Homo sapiens: one gene and its partner. The protein of the gene in region 2 interacts with the protein of the main gene of each other region in a pairwise test. Each region holds a gene or a part of one and is shown on either strand. Other genes may lie near its edges.

Region 1 (2,487 bases), about 42 Mb from region 2:
CAAATTATTATAAAAAACCAAACCTCACCCTTCCTTCCCATTTCCAAATGCCCTCCCGTAAGAGATACCACCCTGTTTGTTTCTGCTAGTTGGTTCTAGTGATTCTTAGACAGGACTGTATATCAAAAATACCTGTGGAGGTTTTAAAAATAATGTAGATGTCCAGGCCTCATCCCTGGAGATTCTATCTTTTAAGTCCGTGGTGGGTGCCAGGCACCTGTATTTAACCTATACACAAAATTCTCACGTATTTTCCAGTTGAGAGCCAGCATTGCTGACTGGGTAATAGTATCATCTTTACACATAGTTTTTTTCTTGGAAGGTTCATTGAAATGAGACACCATATAAAACAATAGCATGTGGTACTTGGCATTTAAAAAGCCCTTTTTAAATAGTAGTTACTATTATAGGAAAAAGACCGAAATTCCCCAGGTATTCTCTTCCTTTAATTTGGTTCTTGTTCTGGTATGAAATCCTAATTATTATACTTATTTATAAATTTAAAGTAGATAAGTCATCTCTGTGATATACATACAACATACATACTACACACACATAGACACACAATGTGTATGCATGTGTATATAATTCTTGCAATATTTATATATAAAATTCTCAGATTAAAAGAGCATCTCGAAGTATATAGCATTTTTGAGCCTTTCGTCGCCTTTTGCAGAATGTATAATAATAAATTTAATTATTTTATTTGCAGCATGGGAGCTTTGTGTGTTTTATAGCATTTGAACCCAAAAGACAGGCAGCTGTCTATAAGGCTATATTCCATTGCAAGCTTTTAGTGATTTGATAAAAGACAAAAGAAAATTCTAAGAACCAAATAACGGGATTTTAAAATTAATCTATTTCCCACAGGTGTTTCATGCAATCGGCTTGGTCAGCACTCATGTCTCCGTTGTAAGGTATACCAATGCGTTTTTTTCTTTTTAGATTTTGTTTTTAATCTCTATACCCCTCCACCAGTCCTTGGCTTATATGCAGCTATAATTAATTTATAAGGGACCTTAAAATTATGTAGTCTAATTCTTTTATTTTTGAGACTGTGGAATTGAAGTTGAGAAAGCTTACATGACTTTCCAATGGTCATCCAGTCACCTTTTAGTAGAGCTGTGGCTAGTGCACATTTCTCTGGAATCCTGGCTCTGTGTTTTTAGTGGAGAACATTCTGACCAAGATGATGAGAGTCTATTTTAATTAATGTCAAAATATACCTGCTTAGAAGAGTTTGGGTAAAGATTTCCAAATTTTTCTGTGTCCTTAGGCCTAGTCTCTAGCATTCGTTCGTCAAAGATTACTAAACAGATGCAGCCAATGCCCTTCCTCTCAGAAGCGTTTCTCTAGTTCTTATATTCCTAACCCTATGTCTTATTTATCTTCCAACTCTGTTCTAGTTTTACCAAATGGTGTTCAGGCATTATCTGTGTTTTCTTTGTCTGGAATACTTTTCCATCTTGGCTTACCCTATTGCCCTCCCATTCTTCATATGGCTATTAAGACTTCGTGTCTCTAAGATGCCTTTCCCAAATCCCATGTCTGCTTTAGTGCCCTTCCCTCTGCACTTCCCGTTCAGTGCTTAGTGTCTTGTAATTGCCTTTTCACTGTCTCCATCCCTAGTTAGACCATACACTGTGTGAGAGTAAATAGGCTGTTCACCATTATTTCATTTCATCAGGGACCTTATGAGTACTGAAATATTTGTGAACAGCTAAATGTACTTACATGTCATACTCAATATAGTCTGCCTTTTGTTAGATCATTGTTCAGAAGGGTCCTGACAAAAACCATTTCTGTTAAGAAAATGAAATGAGAAGTGTGACTGCTCCCAACAAAATTGTTAATCTCACTGCCTTAATAAAGCTATATCTTTAAAACACTGAATACTGTCTTTTTGTATATTTTTACATTTTTATTTATTTACTTTATTTTGCTTCTCCTATACAGGCTTGTTTCTGTGATGATCATACAAGGAGCAAAGTGTTTAAGCAAGAAAAAGGAAAACAGCCTCCTTGTCCTAAATGTGGGCATGAAACTCAGGAGACTAAGGACCTTAGCATGTCAAGTAAGGCCCTTAAGATACTAAGGAAGTGATTTTTGCTTTCATACTTAGACAAAGTTTATCTTTTTTTTTTTTGGTCTATTTTTCTTATTGCCTCTTCTTATTTGAAAAGATGAATGTGTTCTTTTAAGCAAGTGGAATTTTACAGCTTAGGAAAATATGTGGGTAAAGTTTTTCAGTTTTACTTAAATAGACCAATATTCATTTTGATATTTGGTATTTGCCTTAGTTAATGACAGCAAATACTGAAATTTAAGATAAAGAGTGATTTTTTTTTATTTTTGTTGAGTCTTCCTTGTTAAATAGTTGAGTAGCTATAATTCCTTAATATTAAAGTGGTGGTAATTTTAAGTACCTAGAAGTCAAATTCACTCTGAAGCTATCTTAGGTGTGTGATATTTGAGCACCTATGTTTA
Region 2 (3,836 bases):
GGCTGAGGATCACTTAAGCCTGGGAGGTCCAAGGCTGCAGTGGGCTGTGATTATGCCACCAGCTAGCCTGGGTGACAGGGCAAGATCCTGTCTCAAAAACAAAAAACAAAAACCAAAAACTTAAAAGTAATTTCTACTAAGAAAGTAAAACATTCTTTTCCACATCTGGTTTTCTTCAGTTTCCATATATTGTTGATAACTTGGAGTCATATTTAAGAATCTGCGTTATCTTTTCTTTTCTTTTTCTGTTTTTTTGAGATGGAGTCTCACTCTGTCGCCCAGGCTGGAGTGCAGTGGCACGATCTCAGCTTACTGCAACCTCCGCCTCCTGGGTTCAAGCGAATTCTCGTGCCTCAGCCTCCTGAGTAGTTGGGACTACAGGCGTGCGCCACCATGCCCAGCTCATTTTTGTATTTTTAGTATAGACAGGGTTTCACCATGTTGGCCAAGCTAGTCTCGAACTCCTGACCTCAGGTGATCCAACCACCTTGACCTCCAAAAGTGCTGGGATTACAGGTGTGAGCCACTGTCCCCTAAGTATCTGCATTCTTAAGATGTGCTTACATAGTCATACTATATTGTAGTTTTAACTTCTGCAAATTTTCCATTACTTAAAAAAAAAAAAGATCTAAAATTGAGAGTGCAGGGAAAAGAAGAATGTAAAAGGTATTTCAAAAATACTTACATGCTGAATGTAAAAAAGGAAACAGACATCCCAGTGAATTCCAAAGGTTGTGAAGGGGAAAACAAAAAATAAGAATTTCATTATTTGCTGGTAATAATTGTAACAAGTTTAAAGACTAGAATATAAATGTTATATACCTTCACAACATCAACCCAGTTCCAGCCTCGAGGAAGTTCTCCTTTGTGATCTAGAAGATAAAAAATAGTAACTTTATTTCTAAGACCAACCAGCTAGTTTTATAATAATTAAGATTTTATATACTACTGTACACAACAAATAGGTTAAAAATTTAAATGACATATTACTAAGTTGGAAAAAGAGTTTATCATTATGAATCGATACTGTTCTCCTAGGAATACTTGCAAAATATTTTAGGTATACTCCTTTTTTACATTTATGATATTGCTATCCAAGACAAAACCTGATAATGAGGAAAAAATATAGAGATGGGTTGGTAATGCCAGGAAAAGCAGTTAATCCATTTATTAGTTTCATGCATTTGCATGAAGCTACTGCTTTATATAAGAGGTCATTGCTTATTTAAGTAATAAGTTGTATTGTTCTGTTTAATAAATTAGCATTTCGCACCCAGAAGCTAGGCTCAAGACAGGAGGACTCACAAATATATGTCTGGCCTGGCTTCAAGACTAAAAGAAGGGCTGGCTAACTTATGTATTAGTTGCTGTGATCTGATAACATATTCATTATTTAATCTAACATTCTTTAAAAAGGGCTTTAATCTGTTGGGATTGCTTGGAAACTAGCTTATAATTCATAGTCTGCAAAGTGCTTTTATTATTTTAACAGAATATTCAAATTTAAAGAATAGCTTAACAAATATTATCTAAAAATTCTTCAATTTAAAATGGCTTGATTTCCTTTATGCTTGATGTATGCCATGCATGTCTCCACTTTATGAAACCTTAAAAATTTAAACTCAAAACAAGTACATTATATGAATTTTCCAGCTAGGGAAAAAGAAATTAACCCATGATACTTACAGGAGAGAAGCAATATTACTGGAGCTCAATTTTAGATGCTATCGGTTCTTTTCTCTTTCATGCCAAGAAGAATCGTATCCCCCTGGTTACTGGTTATAGGGGGCACATCACCAATTTTGGTTAACTAAAACTTAGCCACAGTGCCGTGGCTGTCCCATTAAAATTTTATTTAGAATGAAAGCTCCAAGTCACAAACTCGTATACTGTCATTATGGGAAGGTAATGGCTTTAGGTGGGCATCATCAAAGAGATGAAGGTAGGGAGCTATTAATGAAATAGAGTGATCACAGGTCATTATGTATGAAAGCAATATTACCTAACTGACATAGATGCTACAATATTCAAAGAGAGATAAACCAAATTCTAGACAACAAACTGTAATGGCTAACAACTTACTGCTTCAGTTGTTTTTAGAGTTTAATGCTGCTCTGACATTAGGTAGAATGAATTCTTAGATTTTTTTATTTCACAAACCATTACCATTTCAAAAATGTATTTTGGAAACAAACACAGAGTTGCTATTTGCCACAGACAGACATTAAACAAAACATAAACCACAAAAAAACTGCCATTCCATTACAGAAGAAAGGACATTTAAAAGGCCCTCACCAGGCCGGATGCGGTGGCTCAAGCCCGTAATCCCAGCACTTTGGGAGGCCGAGGCTGGCAGATCACGAGGTCAAGAGATCGAGACCAGCCTGCCCAATATGGTGAAACCCTGTCTCTACAAAAAATAACAAAAATTAGCCAGGCATAGTGACATGCGCCAGTAGTCTCAGCTACTCGGGAGGCTGAGGCAGGAGAATTGCCTGAACCCAGGAGGCGGAGGTTGCAGTGATCGCGCCACTGCACTCCAGCCTGGGCAACAGAGCGAGACTCCGTCTCAAAAGAAAAAAGAAAAAAAAAAAAAAAGGCCCTCACCAAAATAAAAGGGTCGGTTCTTCTCAATAAAGAGAAACTTTTTAACCTGACATAGTAGCACACGCATAGATACATACATAAGTGTAAATGTGCAAGTACACAAATGACGTCCTCATTTTCCCTAACTGTGAAAAAGTTTACAGACTGTTATCAATTTGCAAGTTTTCAGGTTAAATAAAGAAAAGCAATCAAATATTATTGTTGATATGAGCTAGAGTTTATTATCTTCTTCTAAAGAACTCTTGTTTAGAACATATGAGAATTCTATTCTTAAATATTATTGTTGTATAATTAACTACAGGCAAAAATGTTAAATTACTTATCACACTAAGACCTAATGGTATACTGGTATCCATTTCAAATGAAAACTGTATTTCAAAAAATTTTTAATAACACACAGCTACTAAAGAGGTAAACAAATCCCAAACATGTTAGAGCTCCAGGTAGAACATGTTTTTGTAGACTATTTAAATGCTCCTCAATCTCTAGACTCATTTATAGTTACTTTGCCACTCGGTTACCTTTTTTTTTCAAATGGTGACCTCTTGTGATGAAGTAGTAGTAAATATTTTCTTTTTTTTTTCTTTTTTTGAGACAGAGTTTTGCTGTTGTTGCCCAGGCTGAAGTGCAGTGGCACAGTCTCGGCTTGCTGCAACGGCTGCCTCCTGGGTTCAAGCAATTCTCCTGCCTCAGCCTCTCGAAATATTTTCAGTATACATATGTGACCCAAAAGGTCAGTGACCCAAAAGTTCACTGGCCCAAATGTTCCAAGAAGAAAGAGTAAGAATTAATCTAAATATATCCACCATATCACACTAAGAAGCAATCCATTTATCTGGGTTATAAAAGAAAAAAAAACGGCTGGGCGTGGTGGCTCACGCCTGTAATCCCAGCACTTTGGGAGGCAGAGGCAGGTGGATCACCTGAGGTCAGGAGTTCGAGACCAGCCTGGCCAACATGGTGAAACCCCGTCTCTACTAAAAATACAAAAATTAGCCAGGTGTGGTGGCATGCGCCTATAATCCCAACTACTCGGGAGGCTGAGGCAGGAGAATCGCATGAGCCTGGGAGGTGGAGGCTGCAGTGAGCTGAGATCATGCCACTGCACTCCAGCCTGGGCAACAAGAGTGAGACTCTGTCAAAAAAAAGAAAAGAAAAGAAAAGAAACACACACAAACCTGTTTTGTCTGCCAGCTTACGCTTCTGGGCTTTTGAAAGTTGTTCTTTTT

What was found.
Region 1: the proteins of RWDD4 (region 2) and ZNF330 interact in binary tests that used the Homo sapiens proteins (3 or more experiments, as listed by UniProt).

The regions. Positions count from the first base shown.
Region 1 is NC_000004.12:141,230,569-141,233,055, forward strand, and holds part of ZNF330 (zinc finger protein 330), read left to right. Parts: intron 1-870; coding exon 871-917; intron 918-1,956; coding exon 1,957-2,074; intron 2,075-2,487.
Region 2 is NC_000004.12:183,645,666-183,649,501, forward strand, and holds part of RWDD4 (RWD domain-containing protein 4), read right to left. Parts: coding exon 3,786-3,836; intron 873-3,785; coding exon 823-872; intron 689-822; coding exon 686-688; intron 1-685.